2 linked regions of the Homo sapiens genome follow. The protein of the gene in region 1 binds, or shares a complex with, the protein of each later gene. Each region holds a gene or a part of one and is shown in the gene's direction. Other genes may lie near its edges.

Region 1 (7,568 bases):
CTTTGGGAGGCCGAGAGGGAGGATGACTTGAGCCCAGGAGTTTGAGACCAGCCTGGGCAACATGGTGAAACCCTGTCTCTACAAAAATTACCCAAAAAAGCCCGGCATGGTAGCACATGCCTGTAGTCCCAGCTACTCAGGAGGCAGAGGTGGGAGGATCACTTAAGCCCAGAAGGTCAAGGCTTGATCGCCTTGACAGAGTGAGACTGTCTCTAAAAAAATTAATTTTTAAAAATCAAAATTTTGAGGCTATATTATGCCCTGCATTTGTCAAAATGGAAGGGTTTTACTCAAGATTGCCTTCTGATCCTACTTTCTGATTCTCTGCAGTAATCTTGTCCTTAAAAAAAAAAAAAAAAAAAACTACATGTTTTCTTTATCATAGACCCTCTGGTTCTCTCTCCTGGGATATTCCTGAGCCCATTGCTTAGACACTTTTTAATCACCACTTCATTACCCAAAACGTATCTGGCTTCATCCTATAAAGCAGTCTGAAATACTAAGAAAAATACCAGATTAAAATAAAACCAAATTGATATCTCAAAAAAATTCCTCCACTATTGACTATGGTATTGAATTTACTCTTTCTTCTTTTTTTTTCTTCATTCAACAGGTATTTGCTGAGCACCAAATGCTGCCCCCTCCAGTTTGCTGTTTGAGTGGAATTGCTCATTGCCCTGTCTTGGCTGTCCTGTAAACCACAAGGCCTACTCATATGTTCTAGGAAACACACATCGTTCTTTAGTACTGGCCACACTTTAAACTATACCTTTCTTCCCTTACAGTAAGGGGTAACCCACTGTACACCAAATTTTAACAGCCAGTGAGCTTAAAGATCTATCTGACAGAAATCAGATGGCCTCCACTGTAGCAGATTTTCAATTTATCTCCTGGTCAAACTTTGGTGCTCACCTCTGAAGGGTTACAGGCTTTTACACCAATCAGGTACCCCCTGATTTGGAAGGGAACCTCTTATCCCAGAAGACAGTATCACTCGTGGTTACAATAGCATTTTGGGCATCAGGCCGCACAGGTTCAGTGAGTCTGGCCATGCCACATAATCTCTGTGGGACAAGCAAATTAACTGGCCTCAATTGTCTCATTTGTAAAATAGGAATATAGTACACATATTACAGTGTGTCCAGAATTGGTGGGTTCTTGGTCTCACTGACTTCAAGAATGAAGCCGCAGACCCTCATGGTGAGTGTTACAGTTCTTAAAGACGTCGTGTCCGGAGTTTGTTCCTTCTGATGTTCGCATGTGTTCGGAGTTTTTTCCTTCTGGGGGGTTCGTGGGCTCGCTGGCTCAGGAGTGAAGCTACAGGCCTTCCAGGTGAGTGTTACAGCTCTTAAGGTGGCACGTCTGGAGTTATTTGTTTCTCCCAGTGGGTTCGTGGTTTCAATGACTTCAGGAGTGAACCTGCAGACCTTCCCAGTGAGTGTTGCAGCTCATAAAAGCAGTGTGGACCCAAAAAGCAGTAGCAAGATTGATAGCAAAGAGCAGAACAACACAACTCCCACAGTGTGGAAGGCAACCCGAGCGGGATGCCACTGCTGGTTCAGGCAGCCTGCTTTTATTCGCTTATCTGGCCCCACCCACATCCTGCTGATTGGTCCATTTTACAGAGAGCCGATTGGTCTGTTTTACAGACAGCTGATTGGTCCGTTTTGACAGGGTGCTGATTGGGGCGTTTACAATCCCTGAGCTGGACACAAAAGTTCTCCACGTCCCCACTAGATTAGCTGGATACAGAGTGTCCATTGGTGTATTTACAAACCCTGAGCTAGACAGAGTGCTGATTGGTGCATTTACAAACCTTGAGCTAGATACAGAGTGCCAATTGGTGCATTCACAATCCCTTAGCTAGACATAAAGATTCTCCAAGTCCCCACTAGATACAGAGTGTGGATTGGTGCATCCACAAACCCTGAGCTAGACACAGGGTGCTGATTGGTGTGTTCACAAACCTTGAGCTAGACACAGAGTGCTGATTGGTGCACCCACAATCCCTTAGCTAGACACGAAGGTTCTCCAAGTCCCCACTAGACTCAGGAGCCCAGCTGGCCTCACTCAGTGGATCTTCCACTGGGCCGCAGGTGGAGCTGCCCGCCAGTCCCGCACCGTGCACCGGCACTCCTCAGCCCTTGGGCGGTCGATGGGACCAGGCACCTTGGAGCAGGGGGCTGCGCTCGTCAGGAAGGCTCAGGCCGCGCAGGAGCCCGAGGGAGGAGGGTTGGTGGGGCGGAGAGACTCGGGCATGGCTGGCTGCAGGTCCCGAGCCCTGCCCCACGGGGAGGCAGCTAAGGCCCGGTGAGAAATCGAGTGCAGCGCCGGTGGGCCAGCACTGCTGGGGGATCCGGCGCACCCTCCACAGCTGCTGGCCTGGGTGCTAAGTCTCTCACGCCTGGGGCCAGCAGGGCGGGCCGGCCGCTCCGAGTGTGGGGCCCGCCAGGCCCACGCCCACCTGGAACTCTAGCTGGCCCGCAAGCGCCGCGCGCAGCCCCGGTTCCCGCCCGTGCCTCTCCCTCCACACCTCCCCGAAAGCGGAGGGAGCCGGCTCCGGCCTCGGCCAGCCCAGAGAAGGACTTCCATGGTGCAGCGGCGGGCTGAAGGGCTCTTCAAGCGCGGCCAGAATGGGCGCCGAGGCCGAGGAGGCACCGAGAGTGAGCAAGGGCTGTGAGGGCTGCCAGCACGCTGTCACCTCTCAATAGGGTTGTGAGGATTAAATGAGATGATATGTGTAAAGGATTCAGCACATGGTAGGCACACAATAGATGTTACCTATTATGTAAAGCAAACATCTAAATAAGAAGTCACCAAGTCCTGAGCACCTGCCTCCCTACAAGAATCTTTCTTCATAAAATTAACTTGCTCCTCTATCAAAAATACTCATCAAACACTATATATTATCGTTTGTTTATTGCTCATATTCCCTAATAGGCCATGAGCTCCCTAAGCACAAGGATTTTGTCTACCTTACTCTCTACTCTCCACAAAATCAAGTGCATAAAAAACACTCATTAAACACTTAATACACAAGTCACTGAATACATCTTTTGGCTAAAGTCCACTACCCACTTGAGGTACTGCCACTCACCTCTAAACCAACATTTTTCCCTAAGCTTGGTTATCTTAATCATCTAATTAATATGATTCTTCTTAAATTTTCATAGTATTAGGATCTATATTGGAGGGAAAGGAATAAGAATGAACATTTGTTGGGTATCCATTATTTGACAGACTTTATGTCTTCATTTCTAATTTCATACAGTCTTATAAAGTGGGAATTGGAATAACCCACTTTGCCTGTGAGTAAACTAAAGTTCTAGTTACAACCATTGAGAATCCCTATTTCTTTCCATCACAGCGTTTATCTCAGTTTGCAATTACACACTCAAGTGTGATTATTCGTCTAATGCTTTCACCAGACTGTAATCTCAAAGATAGCAGAAAAGGGTCTGCATTTGCTCATAACAGCGCCTAACAAGCAGGCATATAATAAGTATAGGGCTACATAGTAGGTATGTAATAAACATTCAGTGAATAAATGAGTGGAGTGAGCATAGGGGTAGATGTCAAAGAAATCTGGCTTCTTGTAGTGTTTAAATTCCGCAGGCACCATTTTTTCTTAGTAGGCAATATTCGCAAGGAGAAGAACTAGACCCCATGGAGTCTGAGGCGTTTCCAACACTAATAAAAGAGTACCTGATTAATATAGCTATGGCTGTGATTAATAGAGTGCATTTACTATTGTGTGAGCAAATCCCATTCCCTGTGACAAATGTATTCTATACATGAAATGAACAGTACAACATTTTACAGGCTTCACGGTCAACAGTTACATTCCGGGAAATTTTTGACGTTGAACGAATATTCCAAGAATAAATAACTCAAGAAGAACCTGTGACTATATCTCCAGAAACCTTTTGCCGCTTGTCAGTGAAACTAATAGAGTACAGAGCCTATTTAAATGTAAATTTAAATACAACATTTTCTCCACCTTTCTGCTCTCTTTGTTCCTTGTGGTCCGGAGGTTACAGGACTATATATATTCTCCAATACACACGTGTATAGGGATTTGGGGTTTTTGCTTTCAGTTTTATGCAAGACTAAATCAAGGTATTTGGGGATTTGAATGTTCTGTTCCCACAGTTAGGGAGGAGGGAATGTGCTCTGAAAACAGAAAAAAAGTACTCTGGGGCGGGGGCTGAGGCGACCACCGTGGGGCCCATCCTCAGCCTAGGACGCTGTTGCTAGGCAACTCCCTGCGTTCTCAACTCCCGCCCGAGAGCCACTTCCCGGGCCCTCATTGCCAAGGAGATCGACGCCCCAACTCAGCCCTGCCGTAAACACGCGCGGTCTTGCGACAGTGCCGCGCCTGCCGCTACGTGCGCGCCCTCTGCCCCCATCTCCACTCTCCGCCCGGCCGCCATTGCCTCGTGCCCGCGCCGGTCGGTTGGTGGCGCCTTTGTCCTACGGCGGGCAGGTGGGCCGACGCGGAGGCGGCAGCGGCGGGCCTGAGGCGAAGGAGCGGCCGGGAGCCCGCCGCGCTGGTAGCGGTGAGTGCCGGGAAGCGCTGGCCGTCAGCCGAGGCGTGGGGCTGACGGGCAGGCCGTTGTGGGGGGCCTGGCCGGACGGGGAGGCTGAGGCGGGAAGGCCCACTCGACGCGCGGCCACGGTCTCGGCTCCTCTCCGGGTGCGCGCGGTGCTGCGCATGCCCGGTGCGGGGCGCGGCCGCCTCCGGCTCCCGTCAGGCCCAGGCCCGGCCGGCCGAGGCGGCCTACGGTTCTCTGTGGTGGACGCAGGTCGGCGGCGTCGCATCGCAGCCGCCTGTCTGTGCACGAACGGTCGGTCACTAGGAGTCCTCAAGGCTTCTCTGGTTGAGCCGCACATCCCGCACCCCCTGTCGAAACGGTGGAGTCGCTCGCCCGCGGGTCCTCAGCGAGTCAGTGGCGCAGTCGGGATTCGAACCGGGCCCAAGGCGTCCCGTGGCACCGGGCGTTCTCCAGGCGTGCAGCGCCGAGCGGTGTACTGAGCGCTGTCCCCCGCCACCGTCTCGCGGCCCCTGACCGCATTCTCGGGGTGTCTCCTTGTGGTGTGACACCCCACGCGTTTTGTAGGCGCGGACCTCGGGCCCAGAGAACGGGGAGAGGAACTGTTCCCGGGTTTACCACGTAGCTCAGCGCCAGCGTCCGATCCGGCCGGCTTTCCAAGCTCCCGGCGCGGGGCACTGTCCGCTCCCCGCCAGCGGGCGAGGGGCTTCTCTTAGGACGGCGTTGCACACGTTTCAGTCTCGCGTTGCACCTTTATGTCCGTGGACCATCTGTACTGCTATTTACCAAATGTTACATTTTTTAAAAAATTCAAACTGACTCTTTTTTTCTCCTTAAATATATTTAAGGCGGCAACTTCAATCACAAACCGGGTACTGGAAAGCCAGTTATTTTTCTAATGCTTATAAAAAAAATAAATATCTGTCTGTTGAAATAAACAGTGCGTCCTTGTTCCTCCTGAAATTATTCTGCGTTCCACACTTTGGGAAACGCTGCCCGAGGAGTAGCTGATTAATTGTGGTTCTTCTGGCTTGCACTCTGTGCACAGAATTTTTCCTGAGGCAAAGCAGATTCTATGAATGCCCTGGGCTCTTCAGGGATAATGTAACAGCTTTCTTGTAAACTGTTCTCTTTGTTGACTTAAAAGTGTTAGTCCCAGGGAACTGCAAGAACTGTGTTCACTCAGGTGCACCCGGTGTGCCTGAATTTTCTTACAGCGTTGTGATGTCGTAGCCCCCTGTTGGCTCATAAAAAGATGTTTCTACAAATGCTGGGGAAGCTTTTGTGAGTTTTGACAACTCTTAATTTAATGTTTTCTCTATGAGTCAGTCTGGGTGTGAAAACTAACTTTGTGTCTACTTTTTGCAACCAGTAAAGCCCATGCTTTGCATTGTGGATATTAGAAATCACTTGGCTATTTGTTAACATCCATTTCTTCCTTTATTGTGATTTCTTTGCCTTTCTTTGAGCTCATCTGTCACTCTTCAGATTGCCTTTGAAACCTCTGACACTTCTCTTAACCTAAAACTTAGAAACACTGATTTTCCTTGTAGAATGTCCCAGCGAATCCATATTGCAAGGCTCATTGGAAGGAGTTTTTCTAGATTCAGTTTGCTCAATGTTGCATACCTGTGAACACCACAAGTTTAAAGGAGGCATTGACAGATTAACTTACTTGTAAGTTAATAGTGTGTTCATAAGATCTGTTTATGTGAATGTAAGAGCAGATTTAATTTAAATCATTGACAGGAAAGTCCCATAAGTCAGTTCAGGCTTATTCAAGTTTTCTTCCCCTCCCCTCAAAGGCTGTGTAAAAAAATATATATATATGTATATGTATATATATGTGTGTGTGTGTATGTATCTCTCCCCCTGTTAAAAACATGTTTCTTTGGGGTTACCTTGGTATGATCACAATGTAGAATTTACGTAAGGCTAAGGTCATTTTCTTCACATTTCTGAGAATTTGATTTAAGCCCGGCGTCCGTTTCAGAACTTCAGCAAATGGAAACTCATCTACCAGTGCTTGAGAGCTAAGAAAAAACAACTTGTTTGTTTTGGTTTTGTTTTTGTTTTTTCTGAGACAGAGCTTCACTCTTGTTGCCCAGGCTGGAGTGCAGTGGTGCGATCTTGGCCCCCGGGTTCAAGCAATTCTCCTGCCTCAGTCTCCTAAGTAGCTGGGATTACAGGCGTGCGCCACCACGCCCGGCTAATTTTGTATATTTTTAGTGGAGACGGGGTTTCTCCATGTTGGTCAGGCTAGTCTCGAACTCCCAACCTCAGGTGATCTGCCCGCCTCTGCCTCCGAAAGTGCTGGGATTACAGGCATGAGCCACCGCGTCCAACCAGAATAAACAATTTTTGGAAAGACTTTCGTAGTCTGATGAGAAAAGATTTATTGGTTTGAAACTTCATTTTAAATAATCATTGCAAGCAGTCCATGTTTATGACCTGCAGATGGCAGTGCCTTTGTGTAATGTTTTACTACTGTGAGGATTAATAAAATTTAGTTGTGCTTTTAAGAATGGAAAATCTTCACAAGAAATATATTAAACTTTTTCTTCCCTTCAGTTTAGGTTGTTCTCTTGTTTTTGACTCCCCACGTGAAGAATGAAACGTCTATTCCTGAAGTCACTGTTACTCTTAGTGTAGTAATGATAATAACATACAGCCAGTAGTGCATATGGTAAATACTAAATCATTGCTCCTGCCCGTCATCTTATGAGACTGATAAACTAGTTTGATCTTTTTTATTTATAGGGAAATGATGACTCAAAGAGGTTAGATTTCTTGCCCCAGATCACATAATTAGTAGAACATATTCAAGACATCATTGGAGATAATTGATTTCAGGGTCAAGCAAAATTGGGAAATGTTGAGATATAGTGGTGTCCTTACTCCAAAACTTCTCAGAGGCATTTATGTGCTAAATATGTGCAATGTCAATATCTGAGAGAGGAAGTTATCATGATGCCTTTCTCCTGCTATCCTCTCATGAATATTTTGAAGTAATAG
Region 2 (7,520 bases), on another chromosome or scaffold:
TACCTTGCATACCCAGTTACAGTGGTAGTAACTAGGATATGCAGAGTGGCAAGTTTATGAGGAGCTAGCAAACTGGATAGTTGGCCTTCCTAGCTGGAATTATGACAGGTCTTGAAAATGAAGGGCTTTTAGTGGAGAATCTTTGTGTGGGTGTACTTGAGAGAGGGCAGGAGAGTTAGGGTGACCTAGAAAGATAGATTGCTGGACTTGTATATGTTTCCTCAAAGCCAGACTGCAGCATTTTGTTAGTAAATTGTTGTGTGTTCTACTGTCAAACCCAGGCCTGGAAGGGGAGTTGAGTGCATTCAGCCTAACTTCTGGATTGGCTGTGTCATCTTGAATCCCTTCACTCGGAATTCTCTCTGACCCTGTCCCAAATGAATATTTGAATTTGGTCCAGTTCCTACAGAGCATGGTCTGTGGCTGTTGTTGGTGTTAGGGAAGAGCAGAAACTTGCTGTTGAGAGAGAAGACACTTGAGAAGACTGATGAACTCTCTCCCACCCCTGCCTTCGAGGCTTGGTCCTCCTACCCTATTCAAACCCTTGAAACTCTTTCCTATCCAACTAAATAAGCGCCAATTGGTTACTAGGAGAATTAGCTTTTCCTCATTTTAGAAGGAAACAGGGTTTCCTTATGTACATGTTCTTAAGAATTACATGCAAATCAGTTATTAATGATGAGTTCTCTGGTGATTTTGGAGTGTTTTATCTTCCTAATATTAAATTAATTGAGGGCCTTAATATTTTGTTTTGAAAGAATATATTTAAAAAGGCTGGGTGTGGTGGCTCACGCCTGTAATCTCAGCACTTTGGGAGGCCTAGGTGGCTGGATCACTTGAGGGCAGGAGTTCAAGACCAGCCTGGCCAAATAATGAAACCTTGTCTCTGTTAAGAATACAAAAAATTAGCTGGCCATGGTGGCTCAAGCCTGTAGTCCCAGCTACTCAGGAGGCTGAGGCATGAGAATTGCTTGAACCTGGGAGGCCGAGTTTACAGTGAGCCGCGATCATGCCACTGCATTCCAGCCTGGGCAACAAAGCAAAACTCTATCTCTAAATAAATAAATAAATAAATAAATAAGAATACATTTAAAGATAATAATTGGCCAGGTGTGGTGGTTCATGCCTGTGATCACAGCACTTTGGGAGGCCGAGGTGGGAGGATTGCTTGAGGCAAGGAGTTCAAGATCAATCTGGGCAACACAGTGAGACCCTATCTCTACAAAAATTTAAAAATCAGCTGGGCATGATGGTGCATGCCTTTAGTCCCAGCTACTTGGGGGGCTGAGTTTGGAGGATCCCTTGAGCCCAGGAGATCAAGGCTGCAGTAGGCCATGATCTTGCCACTACACTCTAGCCTGAGTTACAGAGCTAGAGTATAACCCCCACCCCCCAAAAAAGCTAATAATTGTCAAACAGCTACTTATGCACATCAAGGATGCTTGTTGCTTAAGAAATCTTTTTAAATCTTTTCCATGAAATTCCTTCTAGTTGCTGCTTTGTGAGCGTGAATTTTTTACTTCTGCAGGACACACAAATGTGGAGCATTTGAACTGAATGCTTGGGAAAGTGTGATGGGCAGGTGGAAGAAGAATAGGGATGAGGACTTATCCTCTATTCTTATCCTCCTAGACTTATCCTCCTAGTCTGCAAGCTTGAGAATATGGCATCAGGAATATGTGGCATTTTGTCCACACACACAGTGTTGGCAGGCTACCAGCAGCCCAGCTATCTGGACTAGGGGTGATGGATTTCTGTGGACAGAAGTCAAAAAGTAAAATTAGGAGGCAAAAATCTTCAGGGTGGCCATAAAGACATTGTAACTTGTCTGGAAATTCCAACCAACACTAAATGTGTATCCAGTGATATACCAATAGACTGGCTTCATCTTCTTGGATGTGTAATAATACCTTACAGAATGCTTTCTTTTTTTTTTTCTTTTTCTTTTTCTTTATTTTTTTTGAAATGAAGTTTTGCTCTTGTTGCCCAGGCTGGAGTGTAATGGCACAATCTCAGCTCACTGCAACCTCCACCTCCCAGGTTCAAGCGATTGTCCTGCCTCATCCTCCCGAGTAGCTGGGATTACAGGCATGTGCCACCATGCCCGGCTAATTTTGTATTTTTAGTAGAGACGGGGTTTCTCCATGTTGGTTAGGCTGGTCTCAAACTCCCGACCTCAGGTGATCTGCCCACCTTGGCCTCCCAAAGTGCTGGGGTTACAGGCGTGAGCCACTGCGCCCGGCCTCAGAATCCTTTCACAGACATCATCTCATTTCACCCTCAGAGCACCGTGAAAAGGTACAGCACCAAATAGGTACCTGATTCTACTGAAGAAGATGTGGCAGCTCAGGGAGTTTGTGGATTTGTCTAAGATTGCCTGGCTTTCAGGCAGAGCTGGGGCTAGAATGAATGTTCTGCTCTATCCATTGATAGAATATACATAAGAACAGGCTTGATGGTGGCTGACCTTTTTTTTTTTTTTTTTTTTGAGACAGAGTTTTGCTCTTGTCACCTAGGTTGGAGTGCAGTGGCGTGATCTCGGCTCACCGCAACCTCCACCTCCTGGGTTCAAGCGATTCTCCTGCCTCAGCCTTCTGAGTAGCTGGGTTTACAGGCAAGCGCTGCCACACCCGGCTAATTTTGTATTTTTAGTAGAGACTGGGTTTCTCCATGTTGGCCAGGCTGGTCCCGAACTCCTGATTTCAGGTGATCTGCCCACCTTGGCCTCTCAAAGTGCTGGGATTACAGGCATGAGCCACCCGCGCCCGGGTGACTGATTTCTTATTAACTAGATTTACAGGTGCTTTGATAAAAACCAGTCTAGTCTTGGCTGGCACGGTGGCTCATGCCTGTAATCCCAGCACTTTGGGAGCCCAAGGCGGGCGGGTCACGAGGTCAAGAGATCAAGACCATCCTGGCTAACATGGTGAAACCCCGTCTCTACTAAAAAATAGAAAAAATTAGCTGGGCATGGTGGCGGGCACCTGTAGTCCCAGCTACTTGAGAGGCTGAGGCAGGAGAATGGCTGAACCCGGGAGGTGGAGCTTGCAGTGAGCCAAGATTGCACCACTGCACTCCAGCCTGGGCAACAGAGCAAGACTCCATCTCAAAAAAAAAAAAAAAAAAGTGTAGTCTTTTTGGAGTGTTTTTCTGCCATTTCTAGGGCCAAACTTTTTCTTGTCCATGAATCATTGTCAAAATTGGGAATTTTAAATACTACTTTTTTCTTTTAATTCAAAAGCCATAGTATGTTTCCCAGCCAGTACATTAGAACACCATGCACGATCCCATGTGTACAAAAAGCTTTCTGGCTGAATTCAGATGTGACCTGAGAGGGCCAAATACAGGGGTGTGTGCTGGGAGAGAGAGAGAGGTCTCTGGACAGAAAACAAAGCCTGTTCACCACCCAGGATATGGACCAACTATTTTAGGTTATGGTGACTAAAGAAAATTGACATGCAAATAAATGAATAATTCTTAGAATCAGGATGTCTGGGTACTGGTTCTTTGGTTGGCCAGGTGAAATTCCATGCCAGGCCCAACAATTAAACTCTTTAGAGACAATTTTTTCCTGTTGTACCAGAACATTGTACTGAGGCCATGTTTGAACATTCAATCGATGTGTTGGGAAAACTCTGCCCTACAATGTTAAAGAAATTAAATCTTTTGGGGAGTCTTTCCTTTGACCAGTTTATATCTCTGTTTTAGAGGAGGGCTTCTCAACCAGAATGGGTTTGTTGACTTATTTTTACAGACCTCTGGTAGAAAGGAGGTCTTTTTTTGCTACCTGTTCTCCTGTCTCAGAGAACTATTACAATGGTGTAAGTTCATCATTTCTTCCCCTTATTATGGCTCTGCTTAGGAAGAAAAACTCTTTGCATTGGCTACCAAGTACCTAACTATTCAAGATGCCACTGACAAAGAGTTAATCTGTGAATCATGTGAATCTGATATATCTGAAATATATCCAAACAAAAAGCACCTAGCCTTTTAATGACTCTCCAGAAGTCAGTTCTCTAACTTTAATTATCATCCTTCTGGGGATATGTGGAAATTCTACAGAAGTTGATTGGTGATATGTTGAGATGTGAGATCTGTATTTTCTAAGCAAAGTTGCCATGCACCTGATTGATTGGCTAGGTGTATCCTGGCATTTGTCATTTGTTGGTGGGGTCTGATAGTTGGTTTCACCACTGCTGGGTACCCAGAGTCATCACATCCATAGAGACAGAATGTAGGCTGGTGGTTGCCAGGGGCTGGGGGAAGGGAGGAGTGGGGAATTTGTTTAACAGAGAGTTTTAGTTTTGCAAGATGAAATGAGTTCTAGAGATTGGTTGCACAATAATGTGAATATCCTTAACACTACTGAACTTTATACTTAGAAATGGCTAAGATGGTAAGTTTTATGTTACATGTATTTTAACACAATTAAAAAAGAAAAAAAAAAAAACAACTTCAGGCCAGGCACGGTGACTCACACCTGTAATCCCAGCACTTTGGGAGGCTAAGGCGGGCAGATCACTTGAGGTCAGGAGTTCAAGACCAGCCTGGCCAACATGGTGAAACCCCATCTCTACTAAAAATACAAAAATTAGCCTGGCCTAATTGTGCATGCTTATAATCCCAGCTAATTGTGAGGCTGAGGCAGGGGAATCGCCTCAAACCCTGGAGGTGGAGGTTGCAATGAGCCGAGATCACACCACTGCACTCTCCAGCCTGGGTGACAGAGTGAGATTTCATTTCAAAACAAAAAACCACTTTAGAAACTGCTAGTTTTGGCAATAGTTATCACTATATGTTTTATCCTGCATATTTTCTGTTAAGAATAAGGAATTGTTTATGTTGATCAGGAATCTAAGTAATTAAAATACAAAATTCTGGCTGGTGGCTCTCGCTTGTAATCCCAGCACTTTGGGAGGCCAAGGCGGGTGGATCATTTGAGGTCGGAAGTTCAAGACCAGGCTGGTCAACATGGTGAAACCCCATCTCTACTAAAAGTACAAAAAATTAGCTGGGCATGGTGGTAGGCACCTGTAATCCCAGCTACTAGGGAGGCTGAGGCAGGAGAAGCACTTGAAGTCAAGAGGCGGAGGTTGCAGTGAGCCAAGATTGTACCACTGCACTCCAGCCTGGGTGACACAGCGAAACTCCATGTAAAAAAAAAATGAAATATAAAATTCCATACTCATTATTAATTACATATAGTATTAAAATAAAACCCAAACACCAAACCTTCCTTGATCCTATATCCTTCTCCAGCTACCATTCTCTCTCCTCTCCTTGGTCCAAATTTTTGATTTACAATGTTGGTTGGAAGTGGTACCACTTTGGTGTTAGTTCCTTATCATTTTACCTGGTCTGTCCTGCCTCTTCCTGGTACATTAGCTCCCTGAAGGCAGGGTGTATGTCCCAGAACTCCTTGAAGTCCCTTTTCTCAGCATACTACCATGCCTACTGCAGCACCCCCCATCTTTAATGTCCTTGACTTGGTGAAATATTACATTTTGAACACATTTCCTCACTTCCTTATGACAAATATTGATTGAGTTTCAGTGCAAGGTGAGTAAGAAATGGTACTTGCTTTCAAGGAGCTAAAAATCTGAATTTCCTTTTTTTTTTCTTTTTCTTTTTCTTTTTTTTTTTTTTTTGAGACAGAGTCTCACTCTGTCACCTGGGCTGGAGTGCAGTGGCACGATCTCAGCTTAATGCAGCCTCCGCCTCCCAGATTCAGTGATTCTCATGTCTTAGCCTCTCGAGTAGCTGGGACTACAGGCATGCACCACCACGCCTGGCTAACTTTTGTATTTTTAGTGAAGATGGTGTTTCACCATCTTGGCCAGGCTGGCCTCAAACTCTTGACCTCATGTGATCCACCCACCTCGGCCTCCCAAAGTGCTGAGATTACAGGCATTGACTTTACTTCTTACTCTCCTATGCACCTCTATCATTTTGAAGAAGGGTTCAAGGTAGTTCTGATAAGCAGGATTAGGTTTGTATGTAAGTGATTAAAGGGGTGCTATGAGCAAAAAAAGTGTGAAGGTATAACAAGCCAACCACCTCACAATGCAGTTTGCATGTTTCTTAATGGACATAGCAGGTTTTCTGTAAGAAAACAGCAGGAGATTCGTGTGGAATGATGGGTTGAGGCAACATAGTGGCATCCCTTGAATGCTCGAAGAATGTGACTTAGAGTTTGGTGGGAAGCAGAGAGCTGGGTTTTAAGAACATGAATCTGACAACTCTATGGATCTGGAGGAGAAGCTAACTGGGGACGAGGAGCAGTAAGAAGCCTGTTACAGATGCACTGATAAGAAGTAATGAGAGCTGGCCGGGCACAGTGGCTCACGCCTGTAATCCCAGCACTTTGGGAGGCCGAGGCGGGCAAATCACAAGGTCAGGATTTCAAGACGAGCCTGGCCAACATGGTGAAACGCCGTCTCTACTAAAAATACAAAAAGTTAGCTGGGCGTGGTGGCGGGCGCCTATAATCCCAGCTACTCGGGATGCTGAGGCAGAAGAATCGCTTGAACCTGGAAGGTGGAGGTTGCAGTGAGCCGAGATTGCGCCACTGCACTCCAGCCTGGGTGACAGTGCGAGACTCCGTCTCAAAAAAAAAAAAAAAAAGTAATGCGATAATGAGAGCTTACTTCAAGATGGCAGCAAAAGACAGTGGAAAAAAGGCATTGGGAAAAAAAGCCAATGTGCCTTGATGAGTAAAGTTAACTGAGTCAAGGGGAGAAGTCAAAGGTAACTATGATGGGCTTTTTCTATTAACACAAATAGGAAATGAGTGGTTTTGGGAAAGAAAGTGATGAATTACCCCTCAGATATTGTATTAATTGTCTATTACTGTGGCCGGGCATGGTAGCTCATGCCTGTAATCCCAGCACTTTGGGAGGCCGAAACAGGCAGATCACTTGAGGTCAGGAGTTCGAGACCAGCCTGGCCAACACGGTGAAACCCTGTCTCTACTAAAAATACAAAAATTAGTGTGGTGGTGTATGCCTGTAATCCCAGCTACTCAGGAGGCTGAGACATGATAATTGCTTGAACCTGGGAGGCAGAGATTGCAGTGAGCTGATATGGCGCCATTGCACTCCAGCCTAGGCAACAAGAGTGAAACTCCATCTCAAAAAAAAAGATTTGCCTGTAATCAGCCAGCACCCCCAGCCTTGTGCTCACTTTACATACAAAAATTCTGTTTTTTAGAGCATAAATTGAAGGGCACATTCAAAACTGATACGTAGGCCAGGCATGGTGACTTATGCCTGTAATCCCAGCACTTTGGGAGACCGAGGCAGGTGGATCACTCGAGATCAGGAGTTTGAGACCAGCCTGGCCAACGTGGTGAAACCCCATCCCTACTAAAAAATACAACAAATTAGCCAGTCACAGTGGTGCGCACCCATAGTCTCAGCTACTCGTGAGGCTGAGGCAGGAGAATCACTAGAACCTGGGAGGCAGGAGGTTGCAGTGAGCCGAGATCATGCCACTGCACTCCAGCCTGGGTGACAGAGTGA

What was found.
Region 2: the proteins of NCOA5 (region 1) and ESR2 are in contact, whole or in part, in a crystal structure (PDB 4ZI1), measured with the Homo sapiens proteins. Residues at the interface, in NP_066018.1 of Homo sapiens: Ser344, Leu345, Ile346, Leu348, Leu349, Ala350, Asp351; in NP_001428.1 of Homo sapiens: Ile310, Lys314, Phe319, Leu324, Gln327, Val328, Leu331, Glu332, Leu490, Glu493, Met494.

What each region holds. Positions count from the first base shown.
Region 1 is NC_000020.11:46,086,808-46,094,375, reverse strand, and holds the start of NCOA5 (nuclear receptor coactivator 5), read left to right. Parts: upstream 1-4,413; 5' UTR 4,414-4,559; intron 4,560-7,568. UniProt on the Homo sapiens protein: Nuclear receptor coregulator that can have both coactivator and corepressor functions.
Region 2 is NC_000014.9:64,283,955-64,291,474, reverse strand, and holds part of ESR2 (estrogen receptor beta), read left to right. Parts: intron 1-7,520.